Linked DNA regions of Homo sapiens. Changing the gene in region 3 together with the main gene of any one other region gives a genetic interaction. Each region holds a gene or a part of one and is shown on either strand. Other genes may lie near its edges. The genes, in order: SPRED2, RPS5 and ATG7.

Region 1 (3,652 bases), on a different chromosome or scaffold from region 3:
AATGGCTAGTGGCTCCCTCTCCTCTGGCTGTACTTCCACTCATTTATTTTATCCAATACAATAATTTACACATAATTTTGCAACTGGGGCCTAAGTACATTCTAAATTCAAGTTATTCCGATTCACAGTATATCACACTCCAAATCAACACCTATAATCTAGTATCCCCAATTTTCCTTAGTACAAAAGACATCTTAGAATGGACGGTAAGGTCTTCAAAGGTTTTTTGTTGTTGTTTTTTATTTTAACAAACAGCAGAGTACTGTTCTGAAGTGTGCTCACACACAGATCAATGAGAAGGCAACCAATTATTAGGCCTTCAGGGCCAGAGGTGAGCTGTTGAGCCCAGGCACATCATTCTAGCAAGGCAGATTTGCTTTGCGAGTCTGAGCCTGAGAAAAAAATCAAACTTGACTTAACCTTTAAGCAAAAGGGAGAAATGTAATAACTATATTAAGACTATAGTCACACTTACGCTGCTTTAAAAGATCTATAAAAATGAGTAAAATTACTGGGATGTTGATAAATTAAACCTCTAGTCTAGCACTATGTCTGTATTCCCACTCCATCGTCCACTTTATTCCTTGGCTGGAAAAATAAAATGAAATGCCAAACATGGCATTCAAGTAGACAAAACATGTCATAAGCCAAGTGACTCCTAAGAGGATGGTCAGTCCCACCCATCCACACCAAGCCTACTGACTTTTGTTTTAGAGAGAATTTGAATGCTGCTGGTAATAAGGTATCTAGACCACATATCAGGAATGGCGTAGGGATGGCAGGGGAGCCAAGGATGCTATTACAGGTAGGTACTCTTACCCTAAGAGAACAGACAAGCTATAAAACTCAGAATCTCAAAAAGCACAGCCAACTGGGATCACTGAGTAAAGGGGCCAATGGTCAGCTGGGCATTATTGATTATCACAGTACAAAAACTACCAGGACACCATTAGAAAGCCAAAAGAAACAGTCAGTCTTAGAACATGACTTCTAAATCCTAATTATCCTCCCACAAGCTCCCTGAGGAGCCTTGAGCAAGTCATTTCAGCTCTCTAAGGTACAAAGTGAAAATCTTGTTTCCTGCCTTGTAAAGTTCATGGATCTCCTCTGCCTTGTAAATTCTGAAAAGAAAGAACACCTTATTACATGATGGGGGACAGACCTGGGGTAGATGGATGCTACTGAATCTCAATTTCTCAGGTGCTGTGCTAAAATGTTTTACCAAGGCTACCTCATTTATGCTTTTTTTTTTTTTTCTTTGAGATGGAGTTCTGCTCTTGTTGACCAGGCTGGAGTGCAATGGTGCAATCTCTGCTTAGCACGATCTCTGCTTGGCATAACCTCCGCCTCCCAGGTTCAAGCGATTCTCCTGCCCCAGCCTCCCGAGTAGCTGGGATTACAGGCATGTGCTAGCATGCTCAACTAATTTTGTATATTTAGTAGAGATGGGGTTTCTCCATCTTGGTTGGGCTGGTCTCGAACTCCTGACCTCAGGTGGTCGGCCCACCTCGGACTCCCAAAGTGATGGGATTACAGGCATGAACCACCATGCCTGGTCCATTTCTACTTTTTAACAGCCTATTAGGTATACAGCAGAATGAACCTCATTTACATTAATCCAGGGCTGGTGGCTTGGGATACTTAGCAGGGTCCCTTAGTGGCAGGGGAAGAGGTACGGTCTCACTCCAAAGTCCATGATTCTTCCACTACCATCATGGCAGCCTCTCCTTTAGTAGTTTTGAAAAAGCAACTCAAAGTCTTTTTTGGATATAGGTATCCAAAAAAGATAATTGTTAAATTGTGAAAAATTGTTAAATTTTTATACACGGTACAATTATTTTTTCAATTAATGAATAGTTACTTCAACCAATTGATAACTGTTTACAGAAAGCCTACTATGTGCTCAGTGTTCTGCCAGGCCATGGGTATGAGGGTTAATAAATTATTCTCAAAGGGCATGGTGGTGTACACCTGTGGTCGCAGCTACTTGGGAGGCTGAGATGGGAGCACTGCTTGAGCCCAGGAGTTCAAGGCTCCAGTAAGCCATGATTGCACCCCTGCACTCCAGCCTGGGCAACAGAGCAAGACCCCATCTCTAAAAAAAAAGTAATAAAAATAAAAGATAAAGCTATTCCCATGCCAGGTGCAGGTGGCTCATGCCTATAATCCCAGCACTCTGGAAGGTCGAGACAGGAGGACTGCTTAAGGCTAGGAGCTGAAGGCCATCCTGGGCAACGTTAAGAAGACCTCACCTCTACTAAAAATTTAAAAATTAGCCAGGTGTGGTGGCGCACACCTACAATCCCAGCTACTCAGGAGGCCAAGGCAGAAGGATCACTTGGAATACTCCAGCCTGGACAACAGATCAAGAGTCTGTTTCAAAAACAAACAAACAAACAAACAAACCTATTCCCACACCTAGAAAGACAGATGGGCCAAGCTTCTCTGTGCATTCTCAGTTAGTATGGATGCAAATACAAAATAAACAGTGCGTATCTGAAAAGTCAGTACTGGAGGCCAGAGCCAAAGCAAAGCAGTAAGAAAAAGAAACAAGAGGAATAAATAATGAAAATGAAAAGACAAAGATGTCATTACCAGATGAACAAATGAAAGTCAATTAAAAACTTAACTGATAATTAAGTTTTAAGCATTTATAAATGGACCACAGGAAATATATCAAAGAATAAAAACAACCAGATCTGAAAAATCGTTATTTCAGGACACAGAGGAGCCAAAACCATACATTTTAGAAGCTCCCAATATTTGTTCTAATCTCTTCAATCACAAGTGTTAAATGCTAAGGGTGAAGTCAAAATCTGTTTCTTTACCTTTACCCTCTAAGTGCAAGTAAACACAGAAAGTTTGTTTTTAAATAAATATTCAACTACCCTTTGAGAGTAGCAGGAAGAACATAAGCACAATTTGATAATACGTGTGCAATATGCCACATGTGAACATAATGTTGATAAAGGTTACATGAGAAAGGGAAATGGGTAGTTATGAAACAATTGTTACTTAATTTAGCAAACTCCCATGATCCTGGCCTGACTTTCTTTCCATGACATGGGACATATGTCAAGATGTAACAATCCTTCATGTCTATCCAGGGAAAGCATATAAAAAATATATTTTGTTCCACGGGGCACTGGAGCATCAATACAAAATATTTCTTCTACTTCAAAGTCACTAAGAGCCCTAGAAAATGCCTTAAAAGCACCATCACAATGTTCTAGATTTAAATAGTAATTTTTAAATATTTCTAAGAATAAGTTATCAAGTTTATTGAGATGACGGGGTCTTTTTAAAAAACTCGGCCTAATTTACCTTAGTAAAAACAAGCCCAAACAAATAATCACATACACCAAAACTTTCTGGTCTGCCTCTATTATCACTTGTTCAATTTCTGAAAATTTTGCTGTTAGACTGTATTTGTGTTCAGCCGGCAATACAAGAATGATGCCAATATTGGAGTTCATCAGCACAGCTGTATCCACCCTCAAGTGTTAAGACTCCAGCAGAACCCTGCAGCTATTGAAAATTGTTAATACTGTGATTTCTGCAGAGATTCTCCTACAGAGGCATAGAAACAGGCCCTGTCTTATTGTGGTCAAGATTTTTTACTTGTCAGTTCTCGCAACAATGAATGGAATAA
Region 2 (3,752 bases), on a different chromosome or scaffold from region 3:
AGGAAGATCCCCTGAGCCCAGGTGTATTGAGGCTGCAGTGAACTGTGATCACACCACTGCACTCCAGCCTGGGTGACAGAGAGTGATCTTATCTCAAAGATAAAACTTTAATGATTAAAAAAAAAGAGGAGGAAAGTGAATAAAGTGCAACCCAAGTTATATTCATCTTTATATCAATGCAGTCACAAAATATAATTTCAAACACTTTCTTTTAATGGAGGAAGGGCTCACAAAAGCTAAAGTTCTTAAGGCCCACAAAATTCTTAATGATGCCTTCATGGGGAGGGGAAAAAAAGGGTATGTGTAAAACCGTACGGAGTAGGAACAAAGTAGGACAACTCACACTTCCCAATTGCAAAACTTAATACAAAGCAAGAAAGTGTGGTACTGGCATAGAGACAGACATATAGACCAGTGGAATATAACTGAAAGTCTGTAATGAAACCCATACATCTGGGCCGGGCGCGGTGGCTCACGCCTGTAATCCCAGCACTTTGGGAGGCCGAGACGGGCGGATCACGAGGTCAGGAGATCGAGACCATCCTGGCTAACTCGGTGAAACCCTGTCTCTACTAAAAATAAAAAAAAAAAAATCAGCCAGGTGCAGTGGCGGGCACCTGTAGTCCCAGCTACTCAGGAGGCTGAGGCAGGAGAATGGTGTGAACCCGGTAGGCAGATCGCGTCACTGCACTCCAGCCCAGGGAACAGAGTGAGACTCCGTCTCAAAAAAAAAAAAAAAAAAAAAAAACTACGGCCAGCTGATTTATGACAAGTGGCCAAGGCCATTCAATTGAGGGAAAAAAAACATCTCTTTAGGAGATGGTACTGGATAACTGGATATTCACATGCAAAAGAATGACACTGGATGTTATGTATTTTACTACAAAAACAGTAACAAAAATACCATATGTGAGATGTGATGCTCCTTCTGGTGAAGGAGTCCTCTCATGACAGAAGTTGTAGTCATCTTTGAACAGGACGTAAGAGCAGATGTGGTAGATGTGGTGGTCAAGGGATCCCTTCTTTACCTGTTATGATCTCTATTCTTGACTTAATGGCACAGCAACAAGTTTGATGTGTGCCTTCCTGGAATAATGTCCGCCCCCAGCCAGGAAGGCCAATCACCAAGTTCCCCTCACCTGCAGGGAAATGTCATTGATCTGCACATCATCGGTGCTCCACTTCCCAAAGAGCTTGATGTCTGGGGTCTCTGCCACCGCTGGTGCTGCTGTCTCCCACTCGGTCATCCTGGGACAGGGTGATGACAGGAAAAAAACGTCAGAGCTCAGCTAGCATGGAGCAAAGGCGCACTCATTCCCAACTCTGAGGCTAGCCGCCATCTAGTGATGAACTGGGGGGTCGCAAAGGACCAAGAAAGGCCGTGAACGTGTTTTCAAGCACTAGAAAAATTACTCAGCTGTCAGCAAGAAGCATCTGTCTTTCACCTAGAACCCCTGGGCCCAAGACTTGGCAGCCACCAGTCAACAGCTGCTGCACTGGGACCAAGGTATAATGGCTCAGCAGATGCCATACGTCCTCACACTGCATGGGCTGTAATTCAAACCACAATCTCGCGATTTACATGGTCTTTGACCCAAGTCAACGTTCCGTCTCGGACTGTTTCTTTGGCCGTGAGGCGGGACCGTTATATGACATCAAGGACCACGGTAGGTACCGTGTGGCACAATCAACCCAAAGGTTTCGATTCTTGACCGACAGTATGAAGGCTCTAGGGGCTGCTATTACGGGGGGAAAGTTACACAGAGCAAAAGAGGGCATCGTGTCCCTAAGAAATGGAAACTTCCTATCTCAGAGTACAACCGCATAGTTCAAACCAAGTTCCCCAAGCCCCGCTATGGGGAAAAGCTAGAAGCGGCGGAGCACCAGAAAGAAGTCAAGAGTAACTCGGCCCGCGCCCGTTTCTTCTACATTTTCTTTTCCAGAGACAGAAATGAGACCTAATGAGAAAAGGCCCAGGCCGCGGGGCACTATCCCCGAAAGACCATGAACCGTCCCTAGGATCCCCGGCCCCGCGGCGGTCTCACCTGAGAACACAGCCTGAGCGTCTCTGTCACTCGGCGTAGACCACGCGCCGCCCTGGTACAGACAGGAAGAGGCCGCGCGCCGCGGGCCAACACTTTTAACTGGGAAGAAAACTTCCGGGTCAGCACGGGTGACGCTTGCGTAAAAGGCCATCGTGTCCCTATAGACCAATCCGGAGGAAGGTTGTAGAGGAACCTTTTGGGCTAGACGGAATGGGTGCAGCCCAAGCGCATGCGCAGTTGCAGAAGCGGCCCTAGAAGCGTGCCTGGCGGATGTCCGCTACCCCGTAGTTGCCCTGTCTTGTGGGCGCCTGCAAAAGCGCAGAGATTTCCGTGAGACCAACGCAGCCATGTCTAATAAAGAAAAAAGTCTGGCCAGCGCTCGCTTCTTTGTTCAGCTGCTGACCTTAAATCCCACCTGCCGCGGGAGTAGCCAGTTCAGTTCCCTCTGACTCCTCGCCGCGGCCACAGCCGCCTCACCGGCACGCGCCTGATGCGGACCTGGGTTAGCGGAGTGAGGCCCAGTGGTCACCGCCGCCCTCCGCAGGTCCAGGTTGCCGTGCGCATGTGCCTGCCACACGCGGCCCCTCCCCCACCGCCCGGCCCAGGAGCACCACGCTCGCGAGCCCCGGATCCCGAGCCTCTGGCTGGGCCTGTTTCCCTGCTCGACCTTTCCTGCCATACCACGCTGGGTTCCCCCACAGCCTCCGCGCCCTTCACCTCTGCTATGCAGTAATCTCGCCCGTGGAAGAGGGGAGACCGCCGGCACGAGGGCCCGGGGTTGCGGCGGCGGGAGCAGCGCGACCCGTCTCTGGGTGGAGCGCGGAGGTAGCCTACAGGCTACGCGCGGTGTCCGGGAGGAGGGGGTCGGCAGGTCGGGGACCCTTCGTGTTTGTCCTTGTGTCCTCCACGGCCGGGGAGCCCGCGCGAGGGGTTGCAGCCCCCTGCCCTCAGGGCTCACGTCACGAGGCCCTCGTGTCTGCAGACGTGGCTCTCAGGGGTGCCTCTTGAACTGGCCGACCTCTCCAAGGGTCAGAAACGTAGGTTTCTGGCCAAAGGTTGAAAGGAGGGATGGAAGATTTAGCCATGAGATGAAGGAGATTATTCCCGCCAGCACACAATCCCCTGCCCCCCAACTTCTGTCCCTTCCCCCAGCTGCCTCTGAACAGGTAGGGCCTCTGAACAGCTCAGCCCTGGCTGGGAGCAGACAGCGAACCCTCTCACAGGGCCTGAACTATTGCGTGGGATTGAGGATGTGGGCCTTCGACCCGGGGTCCTCATCCGTGCGTGGGGTTGGCACGGTAGTGAGTGCCCCAGCTCACTCTACTCACTTGGCCACCCTGGCAGCCAGTGTGGACAGTCTGCCTGCCCATGACCCCTTCATACCCCTCTGCCTGTCCCAGCCTCTTAGATCTAGGCTCATGAGCAGAACTGGGACTTTCCAGAGGTAGCAACTACTTTGACTGTGTCTCTGCCTGCAGCAGGCATAGACATAACCTTTACGAGGCGACTCCAGGACCACCTGGGGCCGCCCTGTCTCTGATGCCCATCTCTGCCTCCAAGGGGTTATCCCTCCAACTCGGGATCCGAAGGGCCCAGCCACCTGACCCAGGTCCCAGGGCTGGGCCTGCCCCCTACTCCCATCCCTGAGGCGTGCACATAGCAGGTGCCCAGCAGCTGTGTTTCTTCACTGCCTGACTGTAAAGGCTC
Region 3 (3,652 bases):
ATGAAGACCACATTTTGGTAAATTCTTTCAGTGTTTCAAAATATTCCTATAATTCCCCCTTACTGGCTTAGCATTTCACCAAATACCACTGAAAACCTGGAAAATTACTGTGCACTACATCTTCAAAATGACTTTACAGACCAGGCAGGGTGGCTCATGCCTGTAATCCCAGCACTTTGGGAGGCTGAGGTGGACAGATTGCTTGAGCCCAGGTGTTGAAGACCAGCCTGGCCAACATGGCAAAACCCCATATCTATTAAAAGACAAACATTAGCCAGGTGTGATGGGATGCCTGTAGTCCCAGGTGCTCAGGAGGCTGAGATGAGAGGATCACCTGAGCCTGAGAAGTTGAAGCTACAGTGAGCAGTGATCGTGCCACTGCACTCCAGCCTGCGTAATGGGGGTGAGACCCAGTCTCAAAACATATATAAATATATATACAAAAAAATGACTTTACAAACATTTTCTAAATAAGTCTGCTCCTAGTACCACCTTTGGAGGATTTCAGTTACCACGTCTTCATCCAGAGAAGTGCCTGTTTGTCTTTGGAAAGAACTACATAACTACTCTTGCACATTCAACCCAATTTTATGTGCATTTTGGTTATTTGTTGATACCTGTTTTAGTGAAAACCTTTGATCCAAACCCACTGGCCCCTGAATGAGAGGTAAACTCTCTGGAAGACAGAGGGCAGGATAGCAAAACCAATAGTAGAAGTGGTACTTCTTTAGATCCTAGAAAAAAAAGTATAAATAAGTTATTAGAATAGCACCATTAACTTAAGGTGAAATGCATCTATTAATGTAGCTTCTCAAGGCCAATTAAGATAGCAAAGCTATGCAAACAAAGTCTGTCCAGCTTATCAAATATCCTCATCCCCAACAGAACTCATGATCAAATAAAGGACTTTTGTATTCCCAAAATAGTCTCATATACCACCACTAATAATATGATGACAAACATAATATACTTTATTGACCACTTGCTAACAGAAAATGTGCAATATGTAATTGATATTATCATCATCATCCTTTAACCTACAAAACCCCCCTGGGAGGTATTTACTATTATCCCATTTTATAAACAGAAAACTGAATCTTACAAAGGGGTAAAAAACCTAAACAACAACAAAAAAGATGGCAAGGGGCAGAGAAGAGATCAGAACTCTGCTTCCAAAACTTAAGCTTTTTTCCACTGACCATAGATACTTAATGTACTATCTACAGAAGCACAACTTCCAAACAGTTACCATTCTCTTCACAATCAAATAAATTACATGTTATTAAGGAAGCTGTGCTATTCACATATGTATGCATGCCTGAAATAATACAATATTGCTTTTGTAAATGGCTTAGTGGATTTAAGTCAACAACTATCAAGCCCTTGCTATGTACAAGGCAAAACATAAGACACTGACAATAAGATGAATAAACCCCAGTCCCAGACACCAGGCAGCTCACTTTGTGGACAGAGCAGAGATAAAGCGAGTGCATGATTAGAGCCATGGAGAGGCTCTAAGTAGTAAGCTGGATGGGTGAATAGAAGAGGTTACATCTTCACGGGTATATCTGACCGATCCCCCACCAGGGTAGGAGATCCAGGGGAAAGGATTTGTGAGGCTGTCTTTGACACTGTTCCCACTCACGCTAATGGCTCTTGCTTCAGAATTCTTACAGCTTTTGGGGCCTTAATTAAATTCATGGTAGCATTCCAGACATATGTGGGTATTTGGCAGCTTGCCTACAAGCCTGTGACCACTGAATATGAATGCAGTTTATGTAGCTAATTAATATTTCTTCTTGAATCTTGCTAAGAATTAAAATTGGATGGTTGTTAGATGACTTTTTATTGAGATATAATTTACGTTCCATAAAATTCACCATGTTAAAAAGTATACAATTTAGTGGTTTCTTTTTAGTATAGTGATATGGTTGTACCATCATCACTATTAATTCCAGAATATTTTCATCACTCCAAAAAGAAATCTCATACATATTAGCAGAGACTCCCCATTCCCCCTCTTCTCATCCCCTGGCAACCACTAATCTATTTTCTGTCTCTGTGGATTTTCCTAGTCTGGACTTTTCATATAAATGAAATCATACTAGATGAGTTTTAAAATGTAAATGTATATGTAATCATGTGTACAGATGAGAAAGTCTAATAATTGTAATCTCTGCGGTCTCTAATTCTGCTATTCATTGATCAACTAAGAAAAAATTCCCTCTTCACAATGGCAAAATGAACTGCAAAGCTGAAATTAATGAACTGTCTAGTCCTATGAGTCCTAAAAAACAGCAGAAGGAAAGCAAAAACACCTCCAGAGATTATTTTCTCTTCTTTGTACTTAAATGATTTGTCATAACCGATATTTAGTAAAAGGTTAAACAATTCAAGATGAAGAAACTCACAAAATCTTTTTTTTTTTTTTTTTGGAGACAGTCTTGCTCTGTCACACAGGCTGGAGTGCAACGGCACGACGATCTCAGCTCACTGCAACCTCCACCTCCCAGGTTCAAGCAATTCTTCTGCCTCAGCCTCCCGAGTAGTTGGGACTACAGGCTGCCATGCACAGCTAATTTTTTTTTTTAATTTTAGTAGATACGGGGTTTAACTATGTTGCCCAAGCTGGTCTCAAACTCCTGAGCTCAGGCAATCCGCCTACCTCGGCCTCCCAAATCGCTAGAATTACAGGCATGAACCACTGCACCCGGCCGGACCTCACGAATTCTAAGAAACTTTATCAGGTCATTTTCAAAAGTCAAAAAGCTTGCATTTCTTAGGATTCTTTTCAGGATAGAAATGACCTCCATTAAATTAAACATAAAGTCCTTGGTGTCTGAAGATTTTAAAAAGTAGATACTTACAATTTTTTTTAAGTCAGGCTAAGAATGCTCAGTAAACAAGGCAGCAAGACCAACACACATACTGACTCTAGGCAAACCTTAAAACTTTAAGTAAGAGCTAATGTTATTTTTCTCATTAAATGCAAACTGTCAGCATGTTCTACTATGAGAATTCTTGGTACAGAAAGCGTACTGACGTTCAAGTAACTAGAAATCTTTAACTAGCAATGCTTACAATTTATCCCAGTAAAGAGCCTACAGGCTGCATGCGGTGGCTCATGCCTGTAATCCCAGCACTTTGGGAGGCCGAGGCGGGCGGATCACGAGGTCAGGAGATCAAGACCATCCTGGCTAACACGGTGAAACCCCCTCTCTACTAAAAATACAAAAAATTAGCCGGGTGTGGTGGTGGGTGCCTGTAGTCCCGGCTACTCAGGAGGCTGAGGCAGGAGAATGGCATGAACCTGGGAGGCAGAGCTTGCAGTGAGCCGACATCGCACCATTGCACTCCAGCCTGGGTGACAGAGCGAGACTCCGTCTCAAAAAAAAAAAAAAAACTACAGAATTACCCAAACGTATAGACAGATTATTAATGCCAAACTGAGCCAAGTAATCAGACAAAAAATTTAAACATTTTTCTCTCTCCTCCACTATTACATAGAAAGCATTATAACTTGTTAGAAAATGTGTTCCTTGTAGATAGCCACCCACTGGCCTTGTTTGATTGCTATCATACCCTCCTTTGCCTTGGGCAATAAATCAGAGGCCTCCCCTGCATCTAGGAATCTAGGAGGAACGGTGGGAGG

What was found.
Region 1: of ATG7 (region 3) and SPRED2, changing one suppresses a phenotype caused by changing the other (phenotypic suppression), as found in Homo sapiens cells (one large-scale study listed by BioGRID).
Region 2: of ATG7 (region 3) and RPS5, changing one suppresses a phenotype caused by changing the other (phenotypic suppression), as found in Homo sapiens cells (one large-scale study listed by BioGRID).

The regions. Positions count from the first base shown.
Region 1 is NC_000002.12:65,422,531-65,426,182, forward strand, and holds part of SPRED2 (sprouty-related, EVH1 domain-containing protein 2), read right to left. Parts: intron 1-3,652. UniProt on the Homo sapiens protein: Negatively regulates Ras signaling pathways and downstream activation of MAP kinases. Recruits and translocates NF1 to the cell membrane, thereby enabling NF1-dependent hydrolysis of active GTP-bound Ras to inactive GDP-bound Ras.
Region 2 is NC_000019.10:58,385,633-58,389,384, reverse strand, and holds the start of RPS5 (small ribosomal subunit protein uS7), read right to left. Parts: upstream 2,117-3,752; 5' UTR 2,046-2,116; intron 1,249-2,045; 5' UTR 1,248-1,248; coding exon 1,140-1,247; intron 1-1,139. UniProt on the Homo sapiens protein: Component of the small ribosomal subunit. The ribosome is a large ribonucleoprotein complex responsible for the synthesis of proteins in the cell. Part of the small subunit (SSU) processome, first precursor of the small eukaryotic ribosomal subunit.
Region 3 is NC_000003.12:11,310,386-11,314,037, reverse strand, and holds part of ATG7 (ubiquitin-like modifier-activating enzyme ATG7), read right to left. Parts: intron 735-3,652; coding exon 618-734; intron 1-617. UniProt on the Homo sapiens protein: E1-like activating enzyme involved in the 2 ubiquitin-like systems required for cytoplasm to vacuole transport (Cvt) and autophagy.